Linked DNA regions of Homo sapiens. The protein of the gene in region 4 interacts with the protein of the main gene of each other region in a biochemical or structural test. Each region holds a gene or a part of one and is shown on either strand. Other genes may lie near its edges.

Region 1 (7,680 bases), on a different chromosome or scaffold from region 4:
TATATATATGTGTGTATATATATATATATATATATACATATATATATATGAATGTTGCAGCATGCATTTCCTGAGAATAAGGATCTTCTCTTTATTCTAGAGGTATATACCTCTACAGGTGATAGAGGTATATAACCACAATACCTCTATCACCTGTAAAATCCCGATTCCAGGACACAACATAGATAAATTAAATAAAAATTTTTGTAGTGGAGCCAAGGATCCGTAATTTTTACAGTTCTCAAGTGACTACAATATGCAACAAATGTTGAGAACCACTGTCCACACATTAATTAAATTTGTTAAATATTTTCAGTAAAGAATACATTTTGTTTCTTAATATGAATAAGAATGATAGCCTTTTAAAGTTTAGCAAATCTAAATTATATATTTTAGGTCAGCATTTTACAATAATTTACATTTCCTTAAGCTGTTCTTATCAAGTTAATAATTTTCTTTGTTAAATAAATGTATTTTATCTTAATTTCAGTTTCTTCTATATCATGATTTAAAATGCAGAAAGTATGTATTATGTAGTTTTCAAATATATTTATCTCCAAAGTTAAATGGATTTTAGTAAAAATGATATTTATACATATATATTTTAATAAAATGTTTAATAAATTAGACATGAATCTTAGCATGTGAAACATAAAACTTTTTTATAACTTTCCCCATAATCAAACTTCAAATTCGTAAGAATTAAAAGTCCGGAAAGAAAGAAATCGAAATCCAAACTTACTGCATGTTAACATTTTAATAATGTACTTTCATGTGTTAAAAACCTAAATGTTTCTTGCAACAAAGCATTATCCATAAGTGAATAAAAATAATTTTGACTAATAACAAATTATTCCTATCTTGTAGTTTCTTTGTCAGAATTAAGATTAGCATTATCTATTAATTACTTCTCTGTGGCTTCTATGACATTGTTGTATCCAAGCAAGTAAAGAAGACATTAAGCATTTAGAAACAGCCCTTAGATGTCTATGTCTGTTCTTCAGTGTTAGGAGTAAAAGCAAGCAATGTGTAAACTGATTATTTTTAATAAATGAATCAGAACAGTTCAAAGTCAGATAAGTTATACATTTTAGACTGGGGCAGAAGTCACAAGACCCAGATTCTAGGCTATGATTAGCAGGGCACTTGATCTCTCTGGGCCTGAAGTTTCTCACCTGTTAAATGAAGGATTTAGTTATGCCAAAGGTCCCAAACTTTCTCAGTTCACAGCATTCCTAGTGTCTCAGTAATTTTTTCATGGTGTTGCAAGCTAAAAGAAACACCTAACAGTTCCATTTATTAAACAGTTAAACCCAAACTTATGTTTGTCTATCCTAACAACTTAGTAGCTATTTAAAAAATAATATACATTAACATTTTTTATTCTTAATGGGATGTGCACATCTGTTGGGCACTTCATAACTTCTCAAACTTAGGAATAAACTTGGAAACCGCTACCCTCATTCCTGTTCTACAGTAATTTTCCCATAGTCCTTGTGTTTTATTACAGCAATTTACAAAAACACAGCCTCACAAAGATACGATGTCAAAAGGAATGAAGTACAATTTAATGTGTAGAAGTTCTGAACTACCTCAAGATAGTGGTTTGCACGGTGTCCAACTGATGTCACTGTGTTGGCCTTGAAAATTTAAAATATCCCATGATAGTGCCCCTGTGAGTTTGTTGTGGTGCTCCTGGGGTGCCTCAGTACATAGTTTAGGAAGCATGGACTACCCTCTGTAAAATACTTCATATAGCTACAATGTGTGTTGTAAACTGTAAAAGACAATTCTGAGGGCCTGAAGTAAGGAGCTGCAGAATTGAAGAGGAGATTAAAAAGTGATACATGTTCAGTCTGCATGAAATTCCCCTTCCTCCCCAGGTCACCTATAAAATGCCTACCTATGCCTACCTATAAAATGCCTACCTATGCCTCAAAACTCAGCTCAAGCTCCCTCAGGGAGGTTACCAAGTTACCCTTACCAAGTTAAATCCACCTATTATACATTCTCACAGTATTCATTTCACAGTACTTGTCCCAGTTGTAATTATACATTCATTTGTGTAACTATCTGGTTAATTCTTGTCTCTCTCATTAGAATGTAAGCTCTAAGAGGAAAGAACATGTCTGATATCACTACTGTAACCCACAGTGTCTGGTATATTATAGGGGCTAAAATCTTGCTTAGTGAAATGAACTGTGATAGAATAGGTTTAGCATTCATTTTGATTATTTTCCTTTATTCAAGAACAGCTGATATTTATAATAGCATTCCTAAAACATTTTTCTCATACTATTTCGCAGGAGAAAGAAACCCATACACATACAGCTGCATCTGAAACCTCAGAAACTAAGCTCAACCCAATTGATTAAAAGGATGTTCTTTGGATAAGGTAATCAAATGTTCACCGACTCTTATAGCCAAATTAATTATTATGAGATAAAAATCACGTAACTACAAAAAAAAAAACTGCTCACAAAAAAGTTTTTAAATCTTAGCAGATGGACACAAACCATACTTTGAGAACCATGTTCCACAGTGCCAATACAGGAAGTTTCTAGATAATGGCAGCTCATTTTTTAAAAATGGCACTACACTATACTGTATTCACATGCCAGCAAAACTGTTAAGGTAAGTTCATGTCACTATTAAAATAAAATGAATTCTGGGAATTTTGTTGATATTCAATTTTAATCTTAATTATGCAAAGATCTGTTACTTAACTAAGACTATGTAACATAATATAGCATATGACTTCTGGATAATGAAAATAATCCTAAACTTAACCATAAAAAAATAAGGGTATGAAAGTCAAAATAAGGTAGAAAATGACTGCACCAAATAGCCAACAACCTTAAAAAGGGTAGGATTTTTTTAAATCACTAAATTAAGATTGGTTCATTGCATTTAGTACATCTCTTTTATGAAGAGGAGTTATAAGCTACAGAATCAATAAATTATGTTTTGATATAAATTTTTCACCCTTAAAGTTCCTAGCTAGGAGGAAATTATTCTTTTACACTTACACGTTTTAGATAGAATGGCTATAAGTAAGCACAGATAAATGAAGAAATGAAAGAGAAGGGAAAAATAGAGATGGTTGATTCTGCCTCTGCAATTGCTAATTCATAAACATCAAACTTTCCCAGTGTACACTGTCTTCTTTGGGAATTTGCTCCATCTTTTTCCTTAAACTGAAAGGTGGCTTACTGAGGCTATCACTTTCCTAAAGGTCTCCCCAATACTGCCTAATTATTTTCTCTTATCACAGGATACAGGGTGGATGTCCATCTACTTCCTTGTTGTCACTTCCCAGATCACTTTCACTTTATGCTCTTCTAAAATTAAAACAAAGATCATCGACCACAAAACACAATTGTTCTTTTGTAGCTCATGCTAGAATACCCTCTTTGTTACATCTCCTTCATTTTTCTGATCCAAAATTTAGTAGCCTACTATATCTCACCCACTGTCCTTCTTTCCTCCAGCTATGGTAGAGAACTGCTCCTCCAACTTTATGTACATTTGAATCACCTGGGAGTTCCTGTGAACTTCGGGTTCTGATTTAATAAGGACACCCAAAGAGTCTGCATTTCCTGTAACTCTCAAAAGAAGCTGTGGAGTACTCTGAATAGCAAAGCACTGTAAGTGCTGTTTCTGTTAGTATCTAATCTATTAGTCCTAATCTCCCATTTATGCTTTGGCACTCATTCCCTCCTGCTTTCGGTATCTTAATATCTATCATTCCTTCACTCTTCCCTCAGGTTCCCTACATAGTTTATCTCTACCCCCTCTAAGCCGCTCAGTATCGCCCATTAAAGAACTAAACCAAAACTAGAAAACCCTCATTTAACCCTTCACTCCCCCTACATACAATCTGATGTGTCTCTCATCCACAGCTAAACTTGGAAGAAAAATTGCCTGCTTGAGGATGCCATTTTGTTATCTTCAGCTCAATCCTGTACCCACTTCAATGTTATTTGCAGGCCCATTACCCCAACACTGCATTCACGAAAGTCATCAGTGACTACACATTGAGAAAACAAGAATGACATTTTCAGTTCTCAACTAATTTGAATTTCTCAACAGTATTCAATATTGTTAATTACTCCCAATATTTTTCCACATGGTCCTCCATGACACAATACATAATAGTCCCCTTATTATCTATATTCCTGTCTATTGTAAAGACTTCCCCCGCACACCAAAAAAGGTCAAGGAAACTCCTAGCCTTCAAGTCTCAACTCAAATCTGGCCTTCTGAAGCCTTCCCAACTAGGAAAATATACAGTCCCATTGGTTGTCTACCAGTTGTCTACCAGTTAATTGTAATTCTTAGCCACAAGTTAGCTGACCCACCGTCTCTCAAACAGGTGAAGTTAAGCTCAATATTTGGCATATCTTGATATACTTTGTACAGTCTAGCTACAATAAGTTTGCCTATGCACGAAGATGGCTACCGGCGGGGGGGGGCGTCCTTACGTCCTACGTCATCACGTGCCGGGATGAGGGTGGGGCCCTCAAGGAAGACGGAATGGAATCCAGATGGGCGGGGGCAAGCAGGACGGGGCGGGGCTACGCGGGATCTGGGCGGGGCGGGGCCGGTGAGGGGTCGGGGGTGCTCCTGCTATTCAGCCGGTGCGCGCGGCGGCGGGAGGCAGTGGCTGGGGAGTCCCGTCGACGCTCTGTTCCGAGAGCGTGCCCCGGACCGCCAGCTCAGAACAGGGGCAGCCGTGTAGCCGAACGGAAGCTGGGAGCAGCCGGGACTGGTGGCCCGCGCCCGAGCTCCGCAGGCGGGAAGCACCCTGGATTTAGGAAGTCCCGGGAGCAGCGCGGCGGCACCTCCCTCACCCAAGGGGCCGCGGCGACGGTCACGGGGCGCGGCGCCACCGTGAGCGACCCAGGCCAGGATTCTAAATAGACGGCCCAGGCTCCTCCTCCGCCCGGGCCGCCTCACCTGCGGGCATTGCCGCGCCGCCTCCGCCGGTGTAGACGGCACCTGCGCCGCCTTGCTCGCGGGTCTCCGCCCCTCGCCCACCCTCACTGCGCCAGGCCCAGGCAGCTCACCTGTACTGGCGCGGGCTGCGGAAGCCTGCGTGAGCCGAGGCGTTGAGGCGCGGCGCCCACGCCACTGTCCCGAGAGGACGCAGGTGGAGCGGGCGCGGCTTCGCGGAACCCGGCGCCGGCCGCCGCAGTGGTCCCAGCCTACACCGGGTTCCGGGGACCCGGCCGCCAGTGCCCGGGGAGTAGCCGCCGCCGTCGGCTGGGCACCATGAACAGCAGCAGCGCCAACATCACCTACGCCAGTCGCAAGCGGCGGAAGCCGGTGCAGAAAACGTGAGTGTCCCGAGCGCGTCCTCATCGCGGGGGCTGGGCGCTCAGGCACGCGGGTGCGGGAGGCAGCCCCACCCCGCCCCCAAATCCCTGCGATCCTGGGATTAGGTCCATTCCCGGCACTGCCCGTGGAATCGAGGTTTGGAGGCCGGCTGGGAGACAGAGGACTTGGATTCTCCCGTTTTCAATGATTGCATTTTAAAAATTGTCCTCCCACCCATCCTCTTCCCCCGCACCAGTGCATACACACCCTCTCACATTTGCAACTTTGTTCTTTCTGATTTGGTCCTGATTTGTTGACAGCTCTGATCTGCCTTGGGCTAATGGATTAGTTAGTATAAACCTGTCTTGAAATCTCCTTCCACTTTTCATATCCGCATGGGTTAGGTTAGAGGACGGTCTTAATTCTCATTCTTCGTAGAGTTTGGTAAGGCGAGATGTTTTAAAGAGCTAAACACATGCTGACTTTTACGAAGGGGCTGAGTGCCTCTAAAGGTACTTTTTGGTCCCCACCAACTGGCTTTGTGTTGCGCTCATATTTACTTATTTGGCAGCAATTTTGTAGCGCTCATCGTGACCATATCGGTAAAGTGGATAGAAGTGGTAGCAGGTGGGAGTGGATGCAACGGACAGGATACGGTGGAGGATTTGTATTCTTCAGACATCTTTTTCGGAAGCTTGCTTATCACTTTTGGGGTGGCTTTAGGGTCTGTAAAATAAAAGATTTAGAACTGCATTTGAGAGAGGTTTTCATTCTTAACATCTACCTCTAATTCTTTTCCCCTTCAAAGTTTTCTTCTAGTTGAGTGAGTACAAACTTGCTTTTGTCGTTGTCGGTTGATTTTGGTGGAATATTTGTGTGAGATGGCCAATTTTTTGTGTGTGTCAGAAAAAACTATCCGTGCTCAAAACATTTCCTGTTGTGAGGTGGTTGTATTCATGTGTTTATTCCAATTTTTTTATTTCTAGATCTCTGAGTTACTTTACCTACATGTGTTTCAAGTTTTCGTAAACAATTTTAAGAACTCTTAAACGTCTTCTCAGACCAAATCAGAAGTGTGCATTTTGCTTAGACTCCAACTATCACTAATGGGAACCAGAAAAATAACACTTTAAGATTTACATTTAAAACCAGTTATTGGTTTAAAGTTTCATTCTAAAATTTTAGTTTCCTTTCAGAATTTCAGTTATCATAGTTCTTCAGAAGTATACTTATGAATTGGCATTAACAGAGGATAATAATCTATAAATAGACTGATGAAAATTTGGAAGTTTTATGGTACAGTGTGTCTTAAGGGAATATTGTCAAACCAGCAGTTTTCTACCTTGGCAGTTTGAGACATCGGTTATTAATACTTTTAATTTTGTAGAATGGTTTCTTATATTAAAGTATGTTTGTCTTATTTGACATTGTCATTGATGGTTAAAGTTGGGAGGCATCCCAAATGTCTGTTCTATGTGTTTATTAATATAATAATACACTTAGCATCATATATAATAGGGGTGTCATGGGTTTTATGTGTATGGTGAGAAAACATGAAGATCTCCCTGATGTGTTTTTAAGATACTGGGTTTCAGTTAGGGTGTTATCAAAGGACCTGGATGGCTTTGTAAACAAAAACAAATGCCATAATTTTGTATTCATTACACAGTTTAACATTTATGGATTTTGGTTATTTTGCGTAAAATGTACTTTTTATTAGATTATCCTAATATTATACTTACTTAGTTTTTAATATACTTGTATTAATTTCTTATAATATAACAAAAGTATTTTTTCCATTCACCCACATTTTGTTAGCATAGATGTTTATCAGATCTCTGCTGAGCACCGTATATTGCTTCTAATCATACAGATGCCTTAAATATTACCAGCTTGCTCTGTAAGAATAGGCTAGTGCTGGCATTTTCATTATCAAGTGAAAGTGTTTATATAAATTATTTTTACCTGAATGAAAAATTGTTAACTTTATAATGCAGTTAATCAAAGTTTATTTTAGAAATGAAGTCATTAAACCTAGTATTAAATTTGAGTTTTAAAATTAAACTACCAGTTTGTGGCCTAATGAGCCCCAAAACATGCCAACATTGGGGAAAATAGATCTTGTTTTGAGCTGAAAATGCTATCCAGACCTACTTAACTTTGACCTCTTAAATGAGAGCCATTTTATTTTATTTACAGATAAAATATGCTGTAGCATTATTATAGGACTGTTTAAAAAGACAGCCAATTAAATATAAATTTTATGGAATATAAGTATTCCATAAAATTTTGGAGTAAAGTAGGTGACAATTGTAACCTGAAGCTCTTTCAATCTTGAGTTGAATTTATTAAGAAAAATCA
Region 2 (7,031 bases), on a different chromosome or scaffold from region 4:
CTTGCAGTGAGCCGAGATCGCACCACTGCACTCCAGCCTGGGCAACAGAGGGAGACTCTGTCTCAAAAAAAAAAAAAAAAAAAAGAGATTTTGCATTTATGGTTTAGGAACCTCTTTAATACAGATTTCTGAGGTAGTTTTTATGTTAGCTAGGTTAGGAAATCACTAGCATAGTGCATTTACTAAAAAGACATCTTTTCAGCCTAATTAGTAATTGATTGACATTTATAATATCAGCTGATGAAAACATTCACTGTGGAGACTTTTCTGCACTTTTTTGAGTAGTAGGTTTTTTCAGGATACTTTGTGGTTGGAATACAATAGGTAACTAAATAGCACTCGTTAACTGTTCTTTTTGCCCAGGCTCTTCCTGGTCAGCAGCACTGCTATTTCCTCAACAAGGATGCTCCTCTTCCAGATGGCCGAAGTCTACAGGGAACCCTTGTTAGCAAAATCACCTTTCAGCACCCTGGCCGAGTTCCTCTTATCCTAAATCTGATCAGACACCAAGTGGCCTATAACACCCTCATTGGAAGCTGTGTCAAAAGAACTATTCTGAAAGAAGGTACTGCCTTTCCTTTGATATGCTTACTGGAAGATGGAAACTTACTTCTCCAGTGGTTCTTTAATTGGTGGCCCATCAGAATCACCTGTAGAACTTAAAAAAAGTTTTTTTTTTTTCATATTTGGCATAAAAATCAAGCAAATTAGCTGCACGTGGTGGTGCACGACTGTAGTCCCACCTACTTGGGAGGCTGAGGAAGGAGAATCGCTTGAACCCGGGAGGCGGGGGTTGCAGTGAGCTTAGATCATGCCATTGCACTCCAGCCTGGGTGACAGAGCAAGACTCTGTCTCAAAAAAAAAAAAAAATTCAAACATGTGGAGCTTTTAACACTACAGATGATGGCCAGGTGTGGTGGCTCACGCCTGTAATCCCAGCACTTTGGGAGGCCAAGGTGGGCAAATCACTTGAGCCCATGATTTGAGATCGGTCTGAGGAACATGGCAAAACCCCATCTCTAGAAAAAAGTAGCCAGTTGTGGTGGTGTGCGCCTGTGGTCCCAGCTACTCGGGATCCTGAGGCAGGAGGATTGTCGCTTGAGCCTGGGAGGCAGAGATTGCAGTGAGCTCAGATTGCACCACTGCACTCCAACCTGGGTAACACAGTAAGACCCTGAATCAAAAACAAAACACCAGGCTGAGTGCAGTGGTTTGTGCCTGTAATCCCAGCACTTTGGGAGGCCGAGGTGGGCAGATCACAAGGTCAAGAGATTGAGACCATCCTGGCCAACTAGTGAAACCCAGTCTCTACTAAAAATACAAAAATTAGCTGGGTGTGGTGGTATACACCTGTAGTCCCAGCTACTTGGGAGTCTTAGGCAGGAGAATCACTTGAACCCAGGAGGCGGAGGTTGCACTGAGCTTAGATCATGCCACTGTACTCCAGTGTGGGTGACAGAATGAGACTCCCTCTCAAAAAAAAAAAAAAAATCACAGATGCTGTGTTTCCACACGAAGATGAACTGAATGATAATCTCAGTGGGAAGAGTTGGGAATCTAAACTCCACAAATCATTTTGATGGAACCAGTCTGTAGACTAGCATTTGGAGACCACTGCTTTTTGCAATGTTCTTAACTCTTTTTCTGAACATAGTAATGTAACTGGGTATTTTAGGGGCTGTACCCTGTAGCAGATATACATAAGGTAGAACTTGGAATGCTGTAGTGAGAGAGGCTTTTTTTTTTTTGAGACAGGGTCTCACTCTGTTGCCCAGACTGAACCACAGTGGCATGATAACAGCTTTCTGCTGCCTCTACCTCCTTGGCTCAAGCGATCCTCCTGCCTTAGCCTCCCAAGTAGGTGGGGCTATAGGCATGTACCACCAAGCCTGGCTAATTTTTTCTGTAGAGACAGGGTCTCTCTATGTTGCCCATGTTCGTCTGTAACTCCTGGGCTGAAGCGATCCTCTTGACTAGGCCTCCCAAGGTGCTGGGATAATAGGTGCCACCGTGCTTGGCCAGTTTTAGGTTAAATTTTAGGTTGTTAGGAGAGTGCTTCCCAGGTTTAGTTCTGAGTATGTTTTCTCTCCCCATTGTTTGGAGAACTTAATCTTACAGCTTTAAGAAGGTTTAGCTCTTTTTTCTCTCAGGATTCTGGAATGCTGATGAATTTTTTTTTTTTTTTTTTTTTTTTTGAGACGGAGTCTCACTCTGTTCCCCAGGCTGGAGTGCAGTGGCATGATCTTGGCCCACTGCAACCTCCGCCTCCCAGGTTCAAGCGATTCTCCTGCGTCAGCCTCTGGCTAATTGTTTAAATTTTTTTTAGTAGAGATGGGGTTTCACCATCATGGCCAGGCTGGTCTCGAACTCCTGACCTCGTGATCCACCCTCCTAGGCCTCCCAAAGTGCTGGGATTACAGGCGTGAGCCATGGCACCCGGCGTAAATGCTGATGATTTTCAAAGACAGTTGGCTATTAGAAGCTTTGCTGTAAATTTTGGCTGTTCTAGCTAACCATAGTTAATTTTAAAAATCTTAAGTCAGAAGCGCTCTGTTGATAGATATGTGTCAGTGCCAGTGATAGACAATAAGAAATAGGGAAGGCAAATCAGATCTCTTTTATTTTTATTTATTTATTTTTTGTTTGTTTTTTGAGACGGAGTCTCGCTCTGTCGCCCAGGCTGGAGTGCAGTGGCGCAATTTCGGCTCACTGCAAGCTCTGCCTCCTGAGTTCACGTCATTCTCCTGCCTCAGCCTCCCGAGTAGCTGGGACTACAGGCACCCGCCATCACGCCCGGCTAATTTTTTTGTATTTTTAGTAGAAACGGGGTGTCACCGTGTTGGCCAGGATGGTCTCGATCTCCTGACCTCGTGATCTGCCCGCCTGAGCCTCCCAGAGTGCTGGGATTACAGGCATGAGCCACCACGCCTGGCCTTTTTGTTTTTTTTTTTGAGACGGAGTCTTGCTTGGTCACCCAGGCTGGAGTGCAGTGGTGTGATCTTCACTCACTGCAACCTTTGCCTCCTGGGTTCAAGCAATTCTCTTGCTTCAGCCTCCCAAGTAGCTCGGATTACAAGTATCCACCACCATGCCAGGCTAATCTTTGTAGTTTTACCAGAGACGGGGTTTCGTCGAGTTGGCCAGGCTGGTTTTGAACTCGTGACCTCAGTGGTCTGCCTGCCTCGGCCTCCCAAAGTGCTGGGATTACATGCGTGAGCCACCATGCCTGGACTTTTTTTTCTTGATACAGGGTCTTGCTCTGTTATCGAGATTGGAAAGCAGTGGTACAGTCATAGTTCACTTTGGCCTCAAACTCCTGGGCTCAAGTGATACTCTTCCCTCAGGCTCCTCAAGTCGCTGGACTATAGGCATGCACCTCTACATCTAGTCAAATTTTAAAGAAATTTATATTATACTTTTTATTTCAGTGTACATATTTATACAGCAACATTTTTTTTGTAGAGATGGTGTCTTGCCATGTTGTATAGGATAGTCTTGAGCTCCTGGCCTCAGGCATTCCTCCCACCTCAGTGTCCCAAAGTGTTGGGATTACAGGCATGAGCCACTGTGCTGGGCCAGGAGATTCTTCTCATGGAAATAAAAATTGCTTTAGAAATGAGAAATTTTTAGTAGTTGGAGTAATAACATAGAGCATATATGTTCAAAGTTGTGGCACTTCTGTTTCATGTGTTAAAATGCCTTAAGAAGTCTCCAGATAGCTTTAGGGCATTTAAAAATGAGTTTTCATAAGGCAGTTATGGAGCTAATCCTATAGAGAGGCATGCTTTTTACAAAGAAAGTATATGATCCTTGTGTCTAGGCTGCTAGCACATCTGGCATAAGAACATATGATGATGGCTAGATATATGTGGAATAAATACATTATTTTAGATTATAGCCTCTATATCTCTGCTTGCCAAACTATGGGCTGCACATCTAACAGCTGCAAACACTTGATAGAAAGCAGAGTTTATGGCAGTGGTTCTGGATATCTGCTTATCAAGTAGAATGAGACACTCGGCCACTTTTATTTTCAGAATTCACTTTTACATTTTAGGGATTAAGTTTCTTCATCTTGGAAAATTGAAAGTCTAGCTACTTTTGTTCTGGAGAAATTTATAACAAACTGGCAGGTTCCTTGGAATCTGATTCCTTCTGTCATCTGTGGATGACATATAGTAGGTTTTGTATGTGAAAAAAGTGTGCGATTTAGTTTCCAAGGAGGGAGAGAGAATTTCAGTCTGTACATTTAAGGAATGTTATTTGTGTGAAGTCTTTTTTTTTTTTTTTTGAGACAGAGTGTTGCTCTGTTTCCCAGGCTGGGGTTCAGTGACATGATCTCGGCTCACTGCAACCCTTGCCTCCCAGGTTGAAACGATTCTCCTGTCTCAGCCCTCTGAGTAGCTAGGATTACAGGTGTGCGCCACCACACCCGGCTAATTTTTTTTTTTTTTTTTTTTTTTTTTGAGATGGAGTCTTACTCTTGCCCAGGCTGGAGTGCAGTGGCACGATCTCAGCTCACTACAACCTCCGCCTCCTAGGTTCAAGTGATTCTCCTGCCTCAGCCTCCCGAGTAGCTGGGATTACAGGCATGTGCCACCACGCCCGACTAATTTTGTATTTTGTATTTTTAGTAGAGATGGGGTTTGTCCATGTTGGTCAGGCTTGTCTCGAACTCCTGACCTCAGGTGATGAGCCCACCTCAGCCTCTCAAAGTTCTGGGATTACAGGCCTGAGCCACTGCATCCGGCCTCTTTTTTTTATTTTTTAGTGGAGTTGGGGTTTCGCCATGTTGGCCAGGCTGGTCTTGAACTCCTGACCTCAGGTAATCCACCTGCCTTGGCCTCCCAAACTGCTGGGATTACAGGCGTGAGCCACCGTGCCCAGCCTGTGTGAAGTCTTATATTTGGTTGTTTTATGATCTTTCTCTTTGCCTTTTAGATTCTCCTGGGCTTCTCCAATTTGAAGTGTGTCCTCTCTCAGAGTCTCGTTTCAGCGTATCTTTTCAGCACCCTGTGAATGACTCCCTGGTGTGTGGTGAGTTGTGTGGGTGGCTAACACCTCTCATGGAGCGGTTTGGTCCCTATGTCTTTTTTGGAAAAGTCAGAAGCTAAATCTAAAACAATTTCCTATGTATTTTGTCTTTCAGTGGTAATGGATGTGCAGGACTCAACACATGTGAGCTGTAAACTCTACAAAGGGCTGTCGGATGCACTGATCTGCACAGATGACTTCATTGCCAAAGTTGTTCAAAGGTAGCCTTGGCCCTTTTTCATCTGAGTCCCATTTAGAGATGTATAAAGAATGTTGTTGAGTAGGGCGCGGTGGCTCACGCCTGTAATCCCCACACTTTGGGAGGCCGAGGCAGGCGGATCACGAGGTCAGAAGATTGAGACCATTCTGGCTAACATGGTGAACCCCCATCTCTACTAAAAATACAAAAATTAGTCAGGCGCGATGGCGGGCACATGTAGTACCAGCTACTCGGGAGGCTGATGCAGAAGAATAACTTGAACCTGGGAGGTGGAGGTTGCAGTGAGCCAAGATTGCGCCATTGCACTCCAGCCTGACGACAGAGCAAGACTCCGTGTTTTTGTTTTTGTTGTAAAAAAAAAAAAAAAAAAAAAAAAAAAAAAAAAAAAAAAAGGCCGGGCCTGGTGGCTCACGCCTGTAATCCCAGCACTTTGGGAGGTGAAGGCGGGTGGATCACGAGGTCAGGAGATTGAGACCATCCTGGCTAACACAGTGAAACCCCGTCTCTATTAAAAATACAAAAAATTAGCCCGGCATGGTGGCGGGCGCCTGTAGTCCCAGCTACTAGGGAGGCTGAGGCAGGAGAATGGCATGATCCCGGGAGGTGGAGCTTGCAGTGAGCCGAGATCATGCCACTGTACTCCAGCCTGGGCAACAGAGTGAGACTCTGTCTCAAAAAAAAAAAAAAATGTTGTTTTCAGAATTAGCATGAATTTCAAATAAAGGAGCAATTTAGTTATTGCTTTGATTTCACCCTTCTCTGCTTTCGGATTCAAAGTAATCTAAGCTTTGTTTTTTTTTTTTGAGATGGAGTCTTGCTCTGATGCCCAGATTGTACAGTGGTACAATCTTGGCTCACTGCAACCTCTGCCTCCCGGGTTCAAGTGATTCTCCTGCCTCACCCTCCTGAGTAGCTAGGATTACAGGCATGTGCTACCACACCTGACTCATTTTTGTATTTTTAGTAGAGACGGGGTTTCACCATGTTGGCCAGGCTGGTCTCGAACTCCTGACCTCAGGTGATCTGCCTGCCTTGGCCTCCCAAAGTTCTGGGATTACAGGCGTGAGCCACTGCACACAGCCAGCTTTGTTTTTTTTTTTTTTTTTTTTTTTTTAATGATATTACTATGAGAGTAATGGGAAGTAAAGTAGGTAACTTCAGGCCTGGAATTATGGTACTTTAAGGCAGGAGAAAGCCATAATAAAATACAGATATTTTTCTTACCTATCCTGTGTGCCAATTCTTCATAGATGTGACATTTTTATCTTTTTATTCTTTTATTTTTTTATTTTGAGACAAGAGTCTCACTCTGTTACCCAGGCTGGAGTGCAGTGGTGTGATGACGGCTCACTGAAGTGTTGACCTCCGAGGTTCAGGTTATCCTTCCACCTAGACCTCCTGAGTAGCTGGTACTGCAGGTGTGAGCCACTGTGTCTGCCTGAGCAGATTTCACAACTTAAATGTTAGGCTGGGCGTGGCAGTGCATGCCTGTAATCCAGCACTTTGGGAGGCCAAGGCGGGCAGATTACTTGAGGTCAGGAGTTCGAGACCAGCCTGGCCAACATGTTGAGATGTCATCTCTATAAAAATACGAAAATTAACCGAGCATGGTGGTATCCGTCTGTCATTCTAGCTACTTGAGAGGCTGAGGCAGGAGAATCACTTGAACCTGGGAATCGGAGGTTGCGGTGAGCCAAGATTGCGCCACTGTTCTTTAGCCTGGGTGATAGAGTGAGATTCTGTCTCAAAACAAACAAACTAACTAAATAAATAAAA
Region 3 (6,388 bases), on a different chromosome or scaffold from region 4:
CAGAGCAAGCTGAGCGCAGTCAGAGCAGCATCGTTCCTGAGGAAGAACAAGCAGCTAACAAAGGCGAGGAGAAGAAAGACGACGAGAACATTCCGATGGAGACAGGTAACCCACTAGCAACAAACGCAGAGGCAGTGCCAAGACTTTGTACGGCTGTCTTTAATTTAGGTTTTTCTTTCTAAGTGCAAGTATTCTGGTACCTGCCACTGAGGGTGATTCCCAGTACTAAATTTGACATGATATTGACATTCAGTATTTTAACCTTTAAATGCTTACATTATTTATCAAGATGTGGTTATTACCGTTAAGATTAATTGTCTTTGGTGTCCTAGGACAGCATTCTGCAAAGTAATACCTGTAAGCCAATCCTGCCCACCACTTGTTTTTGTAAATAAAACTGGAACACAGCCACACTTGTTTGTTTACATACTGTCTGTGGCTGCTTTGGGGATAAAACAGTATAGTTGAGTAGTTGCAACAACAACTGCCTGGCCTGCGAAGTCTAAAATATTTTCTATCTGGCTCTTTACAGAAAAAAATTGCCAGCTCTGTCCTAGAAAAACCCTTACTTCTAGGTATACTGATTTTCCTGATTAAAAGCATCCCTCAAGGTAAAAAATAATAATAATAACTTGTATAAATAAAACTTACATAAAGTACTGATTACATTGATCGTCACTTGTAATTTTGAGATCACCTTACCTCATGGCACTGTTTTAACACTGCCTAGTACACTGTGTAAACAGGACTAAGCTAAAAGTAGTTATGGAAAACAAAACCAAAGGCTTCCTGGAGCATCGTTGCAAGAAGTGGGAGGGACAGTAGTCATACTTGGTACTCAGATGACAACCATCTGGAAAACATGTAATGGAATATAGATATCTTTACCAGGTATTTCTGCAAAATTTAATCCAGCAGATTAACATTTGAAATGGTCATATTTTAAGTTTCAGTATCTGAGTCTCTTTCTGTTTTGTATGAATGTGTTTTTTATTGTAATGAATTTGGAGCATGAGCACATTTTTGTGGTTAAAACGAGCTTGAAAATTAAAATAACTGATTTTTGCTAATTTTGCAACTAGACAAACACTCAGTCCTTTGCCTCTGTTTTGGCATCTATGAATGGGGCATGTCTTATGCTTAAGGTTTGCAGGTCTTTACTCAGATTCTGTCCTAGTTCAAGGAAAAAACCTGAAGAAAATCGTTTGAGACTATTAGAGCTAAAACCTCATGCTTTTAATTTCTTACAGGAAACAGCCCAGCATGACTTTAAACAAAGTGTCTAAAAGACCAACCTTATATTATTTCTACAACTGCTTTCTCCTCGTTTAATCCATAGCACTACAGACTAACTCTCATTCACTGTCCAACAGAAATAAAATGCAAGTCACGTGAAATTTTATATTTTCTACTAGTGACATATTTTTAAAAGTTAAGCAAAACAAGTGTTTTAACAATATGTTTTATTTAATTCAACATATCCTAAATAAAATTATTTCAACACAGAAGGAACATTTTTAAAATCAGCTTTCCTTTTTTTAAACAGTCTTTATACACATCTCAATTCAGAAGCTAAATTTTCATCGGAAGTATTTGATCTGCATTTATTTAATAAATTTCATTCATTTACAGCTAAAAAGTAGATTTTCATACCCAAATTGTTCCAACATTCTTAAAAGTTCTTTAGTCACACTGGTTCATTTCAGGGGTTTAATAACCACATGTGGCTAGTGGCTTCTATATTGGACAGCACAGCTGTATACTGTCAGCATAACTAGAGTAAAATTTCATCTTGGAACTGACAGTGACAAATGTGTGATTACAGAGGAGACACACCTTGAAGAAACAACAGAGAGCCAACAGAATGGTGAAGAAGGCACGTCTACTCCTGAGGACAAGGAGAGTGGGCAGGAGGGGGTCGACAGTATGGCAGAGGAAGGAACCAGTGATAGTAACACTGGCTCGGAGAGCAACAGTGCAACAGTGGAGGAGCCACCAACAGATCCCATACCAGAAGATGAGAAAAAAGAATAAGTGTTGCCTTGTTTTGTGTGTTCTAAATACTTTTTTTAATGAAAAAATGTTTTTTGGTTTTAATGGTGTTACGTGGTTTGTGTATTAATTTTTTTTCTTGTCCATATCACACCACCAAAGGCTTTTGGACCATTTAGCATCATGAGCCTAATGGCTCAGTCAGTCACCTTTCTTAAGTGTTGTGAAGATGGCTCTTTTCTTTGGATCTTGTTTCTAGCCCTCAACTGCTGAAAGCCTCAGAATTTAGATTAATTGAGAAAACACCCACCTCTTTTAGAGAATTATCCTTTGATGCTGCAGAATCTACTCTTACAATGCCTTCCTACAGCTCACTGGGGTGCTTACCAAAGCCATAGCTTTAAACCTTCCCAGTCCCCATCAGTAGCTTCCTGAAAGTCTCCTCTCTTGTTTACTTCTGCAAAGGGTAGCTTCTTAAAAACGTGATCATGTATGAGTATGTATTTGTTCACTTACCCTTTTTTACTTTTAATCAATGTCAGATACCAAGAGTTGTGTTAAGCTGAGTGTAGTGTGTAACTAACTACACTTGGATCTTACTGATCCAGAAATAGTCCCCATAGTTAGAGTAGTTACTTATGAAGTGGTTATTAAAGTGAACACAGCACATATACATTATCTATACTGCTTTTTGTTATGATTAATACTGGGTATGTTCTGGTAAATCCATCCTTATTGTATAGAAAAAAAATTACTTTTTTACCAGGTTTTCCAAAGACAGAATAGATCACAAAGCTCAAGGAATTTAATATTCTTGTAATGGACTAGATAATTCAAACTGATTAGCCCATTCCAGAAGAAAAACAGCTGGGAATTAAGTTAATCCACTTGAAATTGTTTTACAATAATCAGAACATCCAAACCTCAAGGCTCAGGATCCCATAGACCAGAGCCCACCTTTTTGATAAACTTAGTAAAGTCTTGGAGACTAGAAGCAAGATAGTTTGTGACACATAAGCTTCCCAAAAACTAGAATAGATTTTTACTGAATAGTGGTATATCTGATGGTATATGTTTCTTAAAGGTCCAAATGTAATAAAAAAAAAAATGAAAAAAAGGTCTCAGTGTTTTTAATGCACTACATATTTGTATGCAAGACAAGCATCCAGTTTTTTTCTGTAATGCAGTGACAGTGTGGAATGACCACTCAGCCATTATAAATTTGTGTACTCAGGGCCCTTGTCTCACCCAACTATCTCTATAAACTGCTGCAGTAGCTTATTTGTACAAGACACTTGTGAAAATCAGTTTTCTTACATTATAGTCATTGTCACATATGGAAGTTGGTCTTTGATTCCAAAAGTAAAGGGAATATGTTTCTACATTAACAGGAATATGGAGAAATCTGTAACGTTTGAATTATCTTTGAAAGAATGGCTAAATGATAAATGTTAAGTCCTGTGCCTATATGGAGAGGACTCTGTACCAGCATGAGTTAATTTAAGTGGATTCACTGCTATTCAGTTCATAGCACATTAGTGACTAGGAATGTGTGTTCAGCCTCCTGAGAGAGGAGGGGAGGAAGCTTGATACTGGGTGGAAACAACTCTTGACATCTGTTTCCTTGTGTGTCAAAGAACGAATTTGTATCAAATAGATCTGTTTTGAGCTTTGGCCATTATTTGGCTAAGAACTTCAGCCATCTCATCTCAGACAAATTGGACAGCCTCTTTGATACATTTTCTAGTAGTCAAAATGGGGCAGATGTAGTTTAATATGGGTGGAAAACTGCCCCAGCAAGATACCAGGTTATTTACTGTGGTATCGAAAGCTCTAAGAGAATGGAAGTGGTTCTTTTGCCCGGCTGGAAATAGCAGTGGGAAGACAAGTCTATCCAGACCAAGCCTGTCCATACAACACTGGCAATCAGTTGATGAGGGAATTAAGTCAGATGGGAGACGTCTCAATCTGTCGCCCAGGTTGGAGTGCAGTGGTGGCGATCTCAGCTCACTGCAACCTCCACCTCCCAGGTTCAAGCAATTCTCTCTGCCTCAGCCTCTAGAGCAGCTGGGATTACAGGCTCTCGCCACCATGCCCGGTTAATTTTTGTATTTTTTAGTAGAGATGGGGTTTCACCATGTTAGCCAGGCTGATCTTGAACTCGTGACCTCAGGTGATCCGCCTGCCTCAGTCTCCCAAAGTGCTGGGATTACAGGCGTGAGCCACTGTGCCCGGCCTCAGTTGGGATTTGACAGCTCTGAACCTCAGCAGGGGAAGATTGATGTAAAAATCCACTTGGTCAGAGTGATATATGTAGACTTGATGTTTGAGATGGTTCTCAGTTTAGAGAATGTGGGATATGGTAGAGGTCTTTGTTTTTTTCCCATGTCCCAAAAGGTGCTGGGCAAGTAGCTTGAACTCGAGCCTGTTTTAATTATAAAATAGATCAAACTGCTCTTTCTTGGTGCCCTTACTGCTCCTTGATTTTTAGTGCATTTATTTTGAGTATGAATGCATAAAGTCTGAGGGCCTAAATTTTGTTAATTTTTTTTAACAAATGGGAGAGGGGAATCCTCGATAGTCACCCAATTTTCCTTTTTTTTTGAGACAGTCTGACTGTTGCCCAGGCTGGAGTGTAATGGCGCCATCTCGGCTCACTGCAACATCCAGCTCCTGGGTTTCAGCAATTCTCCTGCCTCAGCCTCCTGAGTAGCTGGGATTACAGGCGCCCGCCACCACGCCCGGCTAATTTTTGTATTTTTAGTAGAGACAGGATTTTGCCATGTTTGCCAGCCTGGTCTCGAACTCTTGACCTCCTGATCCACCCTCCTCTGCCTCCCAAAGTGCTGGGATTACAGGCGTGAGCCACCGCGCCCAGCCCCATAGTCCCCCAATTTTCTAACAGTTTTAAATTCTGTAACTTCTCCTGTCTGTAAACAAGGCTGTCTTTTCAAATGGCTCTCCTACAGGATGTGATAATTATCTATTCTATAAAGCCGAGGTTTGGAGAGGTAAATAGCTATTTCACATTAACACAATAATGTCAATGCCCTATGGAAAAGATAAAATACTTGGACTATATTTTAAAGGGGAATCTGGGGTCATGCATATTGAAGTTTAACTAGATCCCTCCAGATTTTTGGTTTTGATCCTACACATTTAGATACTAGTTTTGGATTTTAGACAGTTGGTGCTGACAGTGTGAAACTCCTATTGCCTGCAGTTAAATTGAAGCTTTGGTTTCTCGTGAACAGGCAGTGAAGCTGGTATTATACTTTAAGTCCTCATTTCAGAAATAGTTTCCCTCCACCCCCAAGCACTACCACACATGGTCTCCCCACCTGGTTTCAGCTAGTGCATTAGTTTTATCTTGTTTTTTACCGCTGGGCAAACCTTGCTGGAACAACAACTGACTTCATGATTTGCACATTTGGAGGGCTTAACGTCTTTGCAAATGAAAAATCCACTGTACAATAACAAGCTCAAAGGAACTCGGAGCCTTTTTAGAAGAAATCGTGCTGAATTATAATGTGGCTTACTGCAATAATGTTTCTTTGATCAGGATGGAAAGGAAAATACTGAGTTTAGCAGAAAACGATGTCTAAATGTATTTGTAATGATACAATTGTTTATAAATGTTTTACTATTAGGTTGAACCATAAGAAATTGCCAGTGTACAATTTCATCTACAAAATGACTGGCTTAACCTAAATTCTGCATTTTATACTCCAAGAATAAGCTCTTCGTGGCAGCTTTCTAAGTGTGAAATGATGGAACTTTCTATTTGCCAGAATGACCTACACTTCTCTAATAGTTTATCTCATATTGTTAGCCAAACGCTGATTAAAATGCAAATTTCAAACTATTGAGTTTTTAAGAGCCTGATGTTTAAAATACATTTTGGTGAACTTTTAGTTAAACTAGCTCATTTATGTTCACACATTTTCTCATTTAGCACCAGAAAGTTTCTTACAGCTCTTTTGCATGCATTCAGGAGTCAAAAGTATTATATGGGGAGGGGAAATTCCCAAATGATAAATACTCTTTACATAAAACTGAGACAGTAGCTGCAGATAATGGCTCCCTTTGAGGAGCCACTTGAAAGAAAGGAAAGGCTGCCTTAAACTCCTTGACTTTAAGGGGCAGCAAGGACCCTCGGTCAGCCACCTCCACACCCGTCTAGCACTTGGTCCCAGGTCCCCTAAGGTCGTCATGGTTCTGTTTAAATAAATACTTCTAGTCTTGGGGAGCCCATCATGTCTTAAGATAGCTCATTCCTTCTTTAGTTCACTAAAGGTATTTCCTCTCACTGAACTAAAAATCTGTCTTCCTATAATTTCAGCCTCCCTCTTACACAACTTGAAGTCAATTAGAGTACATGTCATCACCTTCCAAG
Region 4 (6,124 bases):
AATTGTTCCTGCTTTACCTTCAGAATGAGGGAGAGGTTTTTAAGCTAATTATATCATTTCAGATCACTCATTCTTCCATTCACTCATTCATTCATAAATAACCACTCTCAAGCATCCTTCTTCTCCCTCACAGGGAAGGATTTGGGCCAGGCATTAAAAAACAGCAACTATGTTTAATGAGCACCTCAGTTAGTCCTCACCACCATCGTGTGAATTAGGTGTTATTACTTATCATCATATTGTTGATAAGGAAGCCGAAACTCTGAAAAATCAACTGCCAATGATCATAAAATTTGTAAGTGGTGAAGCCAAGAATTGAGGCCAGTTCTGCCTGACCACAGTGTCCACACACTTCCTGATACACCTGGGGGTGTTGGGCAGAGGGAGTGAGGTGAGGAGAGGCTTTAGCATTCAGACTCACTGTGTGTGACAGATCGTTTAACCACTTTGATTTTAGAGGATCAGTGGTGAACTGCTAGCAAGAAGTGGAGCTTACAAAAAACAAACTCGTTGTCTTTAGTTTAATTCTTTATTTGAACATCAAATAGGTTGAGAAAATTGTTTACAGGTGCTCGAGCATCCCGCTGGATTCTTTTTCAAAGTGCAAAAGAGGTTTACAAGTGTGTTTCATTAAACAAAGCAAAGCTGCGACAAAACCGAGTCACATCAGTAATAGTATGCATCGGCAAAAGGGCATATTAATCCATCAAACACAATTTGGCATTTGAGCCTTTTCCCATAAAACAAGAGCTCTACACTGAAGAGTATGTAGTGCACAAAAAGCATTGTTTATCACCTGTGAGAGAACAGAAACTGGCATAATGTCACTTATTAATTCAAGTCTCTATAACCAATGACCTCTCTGTGAATGCAAAGGGGTCTGTGTCTCAGGCACCTGCTCATGGGACAATATGTTGTTTCTAGGGTGCACAGCTCTAAACACACACACTGACGATGGGTTTGGAACATGGCAGCATTTACATATTTTAAAAGTTCAGGCACAATTGGATGCAAAAAAAAGAATAGAAATTTTTCTTGAATCTCAAAAGACAGTGCAAAATTGAAGTGCCATAATAGAGGCAGCAATTACTTAGAAAACAATTTTAAATGACTAAAAACGAGGCCACACTTTAATTCAATTGGAAAGGAAATGCAGTTGGAAACAGAGCATAATTAACGCTACTGAAAAGATGGATATTTGGGACCAAAGTTCATTTGCTCCAGTTGAGAGTAAGTTTTCAGGGGATTAACTTGGGAATGGTGCAGTGTAATCTAGATCACGCTCCCAAGACCTGCACCAAAGAGAATTATGGTTGCCTTTTGAGCTACTGTATGACTCTATTTGCCTTTCACATAACTAGCTTCCCCAAGCAGATCTGCCTGTGAATATTAGACATTACTATGGTGTTAGTGATCACTCCCAGTACCCACAGTCCATCTCATAATTGGAAAGTATGAATAGGAAAGTATTTGTAATCAGTGTCATGCAGGGGAAGGAGTACTCTAAGCCAGTGGCCTAAATCAATGGCCATTTCAGTGTATAAGATTTCAAGGTGAGAACACCTTAATGTGATCAAAAGTAAATTATCAGTAAGTCCCTTATTTGTTCAGCCCTCAAAAGGCATGGGCTATGGCTTGGTTAAACATATCTGCAAGGTTACTAGGGAAATCAAATCAAAGACTGCACTTCCTTAGGGGTTAGATTTTGCAACCTACATTGATAGGGTCTTCTCTTTGGATGACCTAGCCTCTCATAATTGCTGCATGATGGCATTATAGAATCATTACGGCAAGCTAGGCAATGGCGAAAAGAAACACAGACCACTAGCTATTCCATGGACTTTACTGCTGATGTTGTTCTTTCTTCTCTAGAACTGAAGCTGCCATTTTAGAAATGGCTGTAAATGGAGCTAGTTGATTTGTGGTCTCCAGGGCAGAAGTGGACTCTACTGAACCCTGGTGCACACCCAGAATTAACCATTTTCCTCCAAATACTTTCAATACTCTTCTTAATATATTTGCCATTCCCCAGATTCCTGAATCCACTTCCCCACCATACCTGAGCCCCCCAGATAAATCACATCTTTTACATTTTAACTTGCCTCAGAGTGGGGGAAAGCAGAGGCAAGAGTTTTTTTTTAAATCATGTTCCTACACCCAATACCAACATCAGCCAGAAAATATCTGCTGTCCATTAGTGGCACTTCAAGTAAAAATACAAAGAGATTTCCAAAGTTGCTGGAGACCCCTGGGCGAACATTTCAATCATCTGATGTTCTCTGCCCACTTCAAATGTAGTAGTATCTTAACATGAATAGAAACACATTGGATGAATAATGTAAAACCTTCCACTGTATAATTGTTTGGCTTTAGCTGGTATTACATCGTCTAGTCCTAGAAATTTTTTTTTGTTTTATTTTAATTTTTTTAAAAGAAAATCTAAGTATAAACATTAAAAAGAACCCACTGACCCATTAGCTACTGTCCAAAAATATTACTACTGATATTTTGGTAAAAGCAAAATTAGCTGCCCTGAATAATTTTCCTTTTCAGGCATAATCTTTGCTACATAAGATTGTCTGTCATTCAGTATCCAACAATAGGCATCTGGATTAGTGCTATTTTGTCTACTGTGGATACAAAAGTTGATATGAAATGTGATCTTCATTTAAATGAATAATCACCAGGCTTTAGGCATAAATGACTGTATACATGACAAGGTAGCTTGAAAAGTATACAAAAAAAAAAAAAAAAACTAAATATTTTTCCTTGGTTTTTGCATGTTAACCCAGTCAAATTAAATCCAGAACAGAATTACTACATTCAATTGTCTGATAAACAAGCAATGTAATTTCAAAAAAATATATATTATACTATATAAGGTGCTTCTTAAACAAACTAAGGTGCTTCTTAAACAAACAGCAACAAAAGAATTATGTTCTTAAACATATCCTTAACACAGATACATAAAATTGTCCCCAAATTTAAGTGCACATAAAAACTTTTTTTTTTTTTTTGCCCTCCCAGATTCTCAGTCCTTTGGTGATCACTTAACTGGACAATCAGAAATGAATGAAATCCACTTTTCCAAACAAGACATACCAAGAGAAGCCCGAGCAGCTCACCTGGGTCATTGGCTAACACAGACATCACCTCTCAATAGGGTTTCAATTACAGACAATAAGGTCACCCAGAGGAAATCAAACATTCTTTTTTGTTAAGAAAAAGGAAGTAACCCATAATTGTGCTAGAGAAGCAAAGGCCCAGGGAAGGCTGCCCTGTGGCTGGAATGAGCCTTTCTTTTTTAGCCTATAGGTCAAAGGAAATTGAAGGAAATGAGCTGGCAGGAGTGGAGGCGGTAGGGAACGGGGCGGGGGAGGAAGGGGGAGGATTTTCTTCCCCAAACCAAACCCTGATTTTGGATTATCTCTAAACCACCAAGGGCATACGTAATCTGACCAGGCCCCAGTCAGCCTGAGTAGTGACAGCAACGGTCCCCACCCTTCTCCCGTGCCCCAGGGTGCTGGGCCAATTGTAGGAACACAGCTGTCTACAGCAGCTGTGACAGCTGCTTCTTCCAACCAGGGCCACGCTGGGAAATGAAGAAGAGCTGGACTACCCCAGGGATCCCAGGGCACCCCCAAAGGGCAATGCGGGGTCTGCAAGGAATGTTCCTAGGTAGCTGCAGCCTGTGGCAGGGCCACCCTGAGCAAGTCTGGCTGTGCCTCAGAACTGTATCCAGTTTCTGCCCTACTTTCCCTCTTGTTCTCTAGTAGCCACAACAATCCTGCACAAGTACTGTTCAGCTCCATGCCCCAGGGCTAAATGCAACACCAGGGCCCCTGCTCCTTTCAACTACCATTTACCCTCATCATGCATCACCACAGTGAACAGTTCACCCCTGTGTAAGGCACACACACGCCGGGAAGATCCAAGTACAGTGCCCACTGGAACAGGTCCTGAAGCTGACCTTACTGCAAGTTCAGGGAGGGAGGGCTTTCTTTTGTAACACAAAAATAAAAACAAAAATCAGGAACTTATCCCTCATATAGGGAGACTTAACTAAGATCAACTTGCTGCTCTCCATAGGTCCATGGGAGGCATGAATTAACTGGAACCCATGACCGGAAAGCCAGAGGCAGAGCTTTCAGCACATCTGAATCTGCAGTGTATCAAGTTAAAATAGTCTTGCCAACTAGGGGATCTGCCTTCCCTGTGTGCCCCTTGTATTCCTATAGGGGGAATGAATTGACAATCACCAGATACTCTGCTACAGTCATATAAAAGCTTTAAGGTGTACCACTTTCATAAAAGGATGCATTGCCATAGGAATACAAGAGGGTGCTATAATAAACCCTTGACCTAGCTTTCTCCAAGTCACCAATTAAAGGAGCCACTTTAAATTCTTTGCTGTGGCTTATTCTTAGAGCCATTTAAAAAGTGCTTATCAGAGGCAAAATGTCTACTCTCCAGGCCTGGGTCTCTACAAGTAGCTTAAATGCACAGAGTTATCTGAGCCCCAACCCATAGACTGAGTTCAGCTGTGAAGAGCTACGGGAATCCTCACGCTTAGTAACATAGCAAGGGGGAAAGAGAGCTGTTACAAAGATTTAGCCTTGGAATCCCTTTGGCTGTTCCCAACAGAAGACAGAAGATGTGCCACTAAGAACTGAGCAAGCAAATGAATGGCCACTCATCTAGAAAGCCATTGGTGTTGGATGCATGCCGGAGTGTATGCAGGAGACAGAATTTGGCTAAAGTGGTGCATGATGAGGGTAAAATGCAGCAGGGATTATCTGAACCGTGTGGGAGCCAGGGAGCTCTCAGACCGTGGCAGGGAAACCCTCTGCCTCCCCCGTGATGTAATACTTTTGCAAGGAATGCGATGAAGTAGAGCCCGCAGTGGCCAAGTGGCTTTGGTCCGTCTCCTCCACGGATGCCCCTCCACGGCTAGTGGGCGCATGTAGGCGGTGGGCGTCCAGCATCTCCAGCAGCAGGTCATAGAGGGGCACCACGTTCTTGCACTTCATGCTGTACAGATGCTCCATGCCTTTGTTACTGTAGGTGGGAAGACACAGAAAGGACTACTTTAGAGCCAACCCGAGCCCCAGGAGTGCTGAAATCCCTAGAAGGGGAAGGAAGAGGAACTCCAAAGACACTTAGCAATCTTTCTTTCTTCCTGTTTAAAGACCCACTTTAGGATGGGAGCTGGGAAAGCTGAGGGCTTTCAGAAGCCCTAATCTGGAACTCATGGCCGTGTGTTTTTCATTTTCCACCTCCTACCAGGGCGGTCCCACCCTCACACTCTCCCTGCAGCCACTTTCAGGGTATTTGCTATGCAGGTGACTTCCATGGACCTCCGTGGCCTCAAATGAGATCCTATTCCCCTCCAATAGGACCTAAATGCATTCAAATAGGATCGCCAAAGCTTCTAAAAAGACAACATGAGATATTCAGCCAAGCAGGAGTGGGTATTTTAAATGAGTAAAGCAGTTCAAGACGCTCCATTGTTAAATCTCTCACGTCACTTCCCATTTAACTCAGAATACGATCTAAATGCCTTTCCATGTTCAACAAGGCCCAACTGGTCCAGCTTCCATCCATGTCTCCAAGCTCTTCCTGCCTCTCTCCCCTAATGTGCTCTCCGGAGCCACACTGATTTTTGTGCTGCCCTTAAAGGAACTAAGCTCCCCCAAGACTTAGGGGACCTACACTTGCTGTTCCTACTTGCTGGGATGAACCTTCCTCCGGTCTTCAAATGCCGCCTCCTCGGAAAGGCCTACCGCTACCCAGTGGCAGCAGCCTCAAGCCTCTGCAGGCTCAGCCTTCCTCTTTCACACCGTTCTGTTTTTCTCAGCACTCTTATCACTGCCTGAAATTCTCCTTTTTATTTATTTGTGTTTATTCTCCCGCCTCCAAACACACACGTGCACACACTCACACCCTCAGTGCGAATTCCTAGAGAAGCAGGCTTTATCCTGTCCCCTGCTAGGCCTAAAACAGTGCCCAGAGCTCAGTTCACGTTCAGGAAAACAAGGGGGGAAATGGGCAGCGGGAAATGGGCAGAGGGAAATGTAGGCAAATGGCATTCTCCTTTCCCTACTCTCCTCCTCTGCTCTCCTCC

What was found.
Region 1: the proteins of ESR1 (region 4) and AHR form a complex in vitro, tested with the Homo sapiens proteins (4 studies listed by BioGRID, with this or other methods).
Region 2: the proteins of ESR1 (region 4) and MED1 form a complex in vitro, tested with the Homo sapiens proteins (6 studies listed by BioGRID).
Region 3: the proteins of ESR1 (region 4) and SMARCE1 form a complex in vitro, tested with the Homo sapiens proteins (3 studies listed by BioGRID).

Annotation. Positions count from the first base shown.
Region 1 is NC_000007.14:17,293,991-17,301,670, forward strand, and holds the start of AHR (aryl hydrocarbon receptor), read left to right. Parts: upstream 1-4,661; 5' UTR 4,662-5,274; coding exon 5,275-5,339; intron 5,340-7,680. UniProt on the Homo sapiens protein: Ligand-activated transcription factor that enables cells to adapt to changing conditions by sensing compounds from the environment, diet, microbiome and cellular metabolism, and which plays important roles in development, immunity and cancer.
Region 2 is NC_000017.11:39,413,251-39,420,281, reverse strand, and holds part of MED1 (mediator of RNA polymerase II transcription subunit 1), read left to right. Parts: intron 1-363; coding exon 364-565; intron 566-4,942; coding exon 4,943-5,038; intron 5,039-5,150; coding exon 5,151-5,256; intron 5,257-7,031. UniProt on the Homo sapiens protein: Component of the Mediator complex, a coactivator involved in the regulated transcription of nearly all RNA polymerase II-dependent genes.
Region 3 is NC_000017.11:40,624,431-40,630,818, reverse strand, and holds the end of SMARCE1 (SWI/SNF-related matrix-associated actin-dependent regulator of chromatin subfamily E member 1), read left to right. Parts: coding exon 1-105; intron 106-1,825; coding exon 1,826-2,034; 3' UTR 2,035-5,857; downstream 5,858-6,388. UniProt on the Homo sapiens protein: Involved in transcriptional activation and repression of select genes by chromatin remodeling (alteration of DNA-nucleosome topology).
Region 4 is NC_000006.12:152,097,666-152,103,789, reverse strand, and holds the end of ESR1 (estrogen receptor), read right to left. Parts: intron 5,059-6,124; coding exon 4,824-5,058; 3' UTR 516-4,823; downstream 1-515.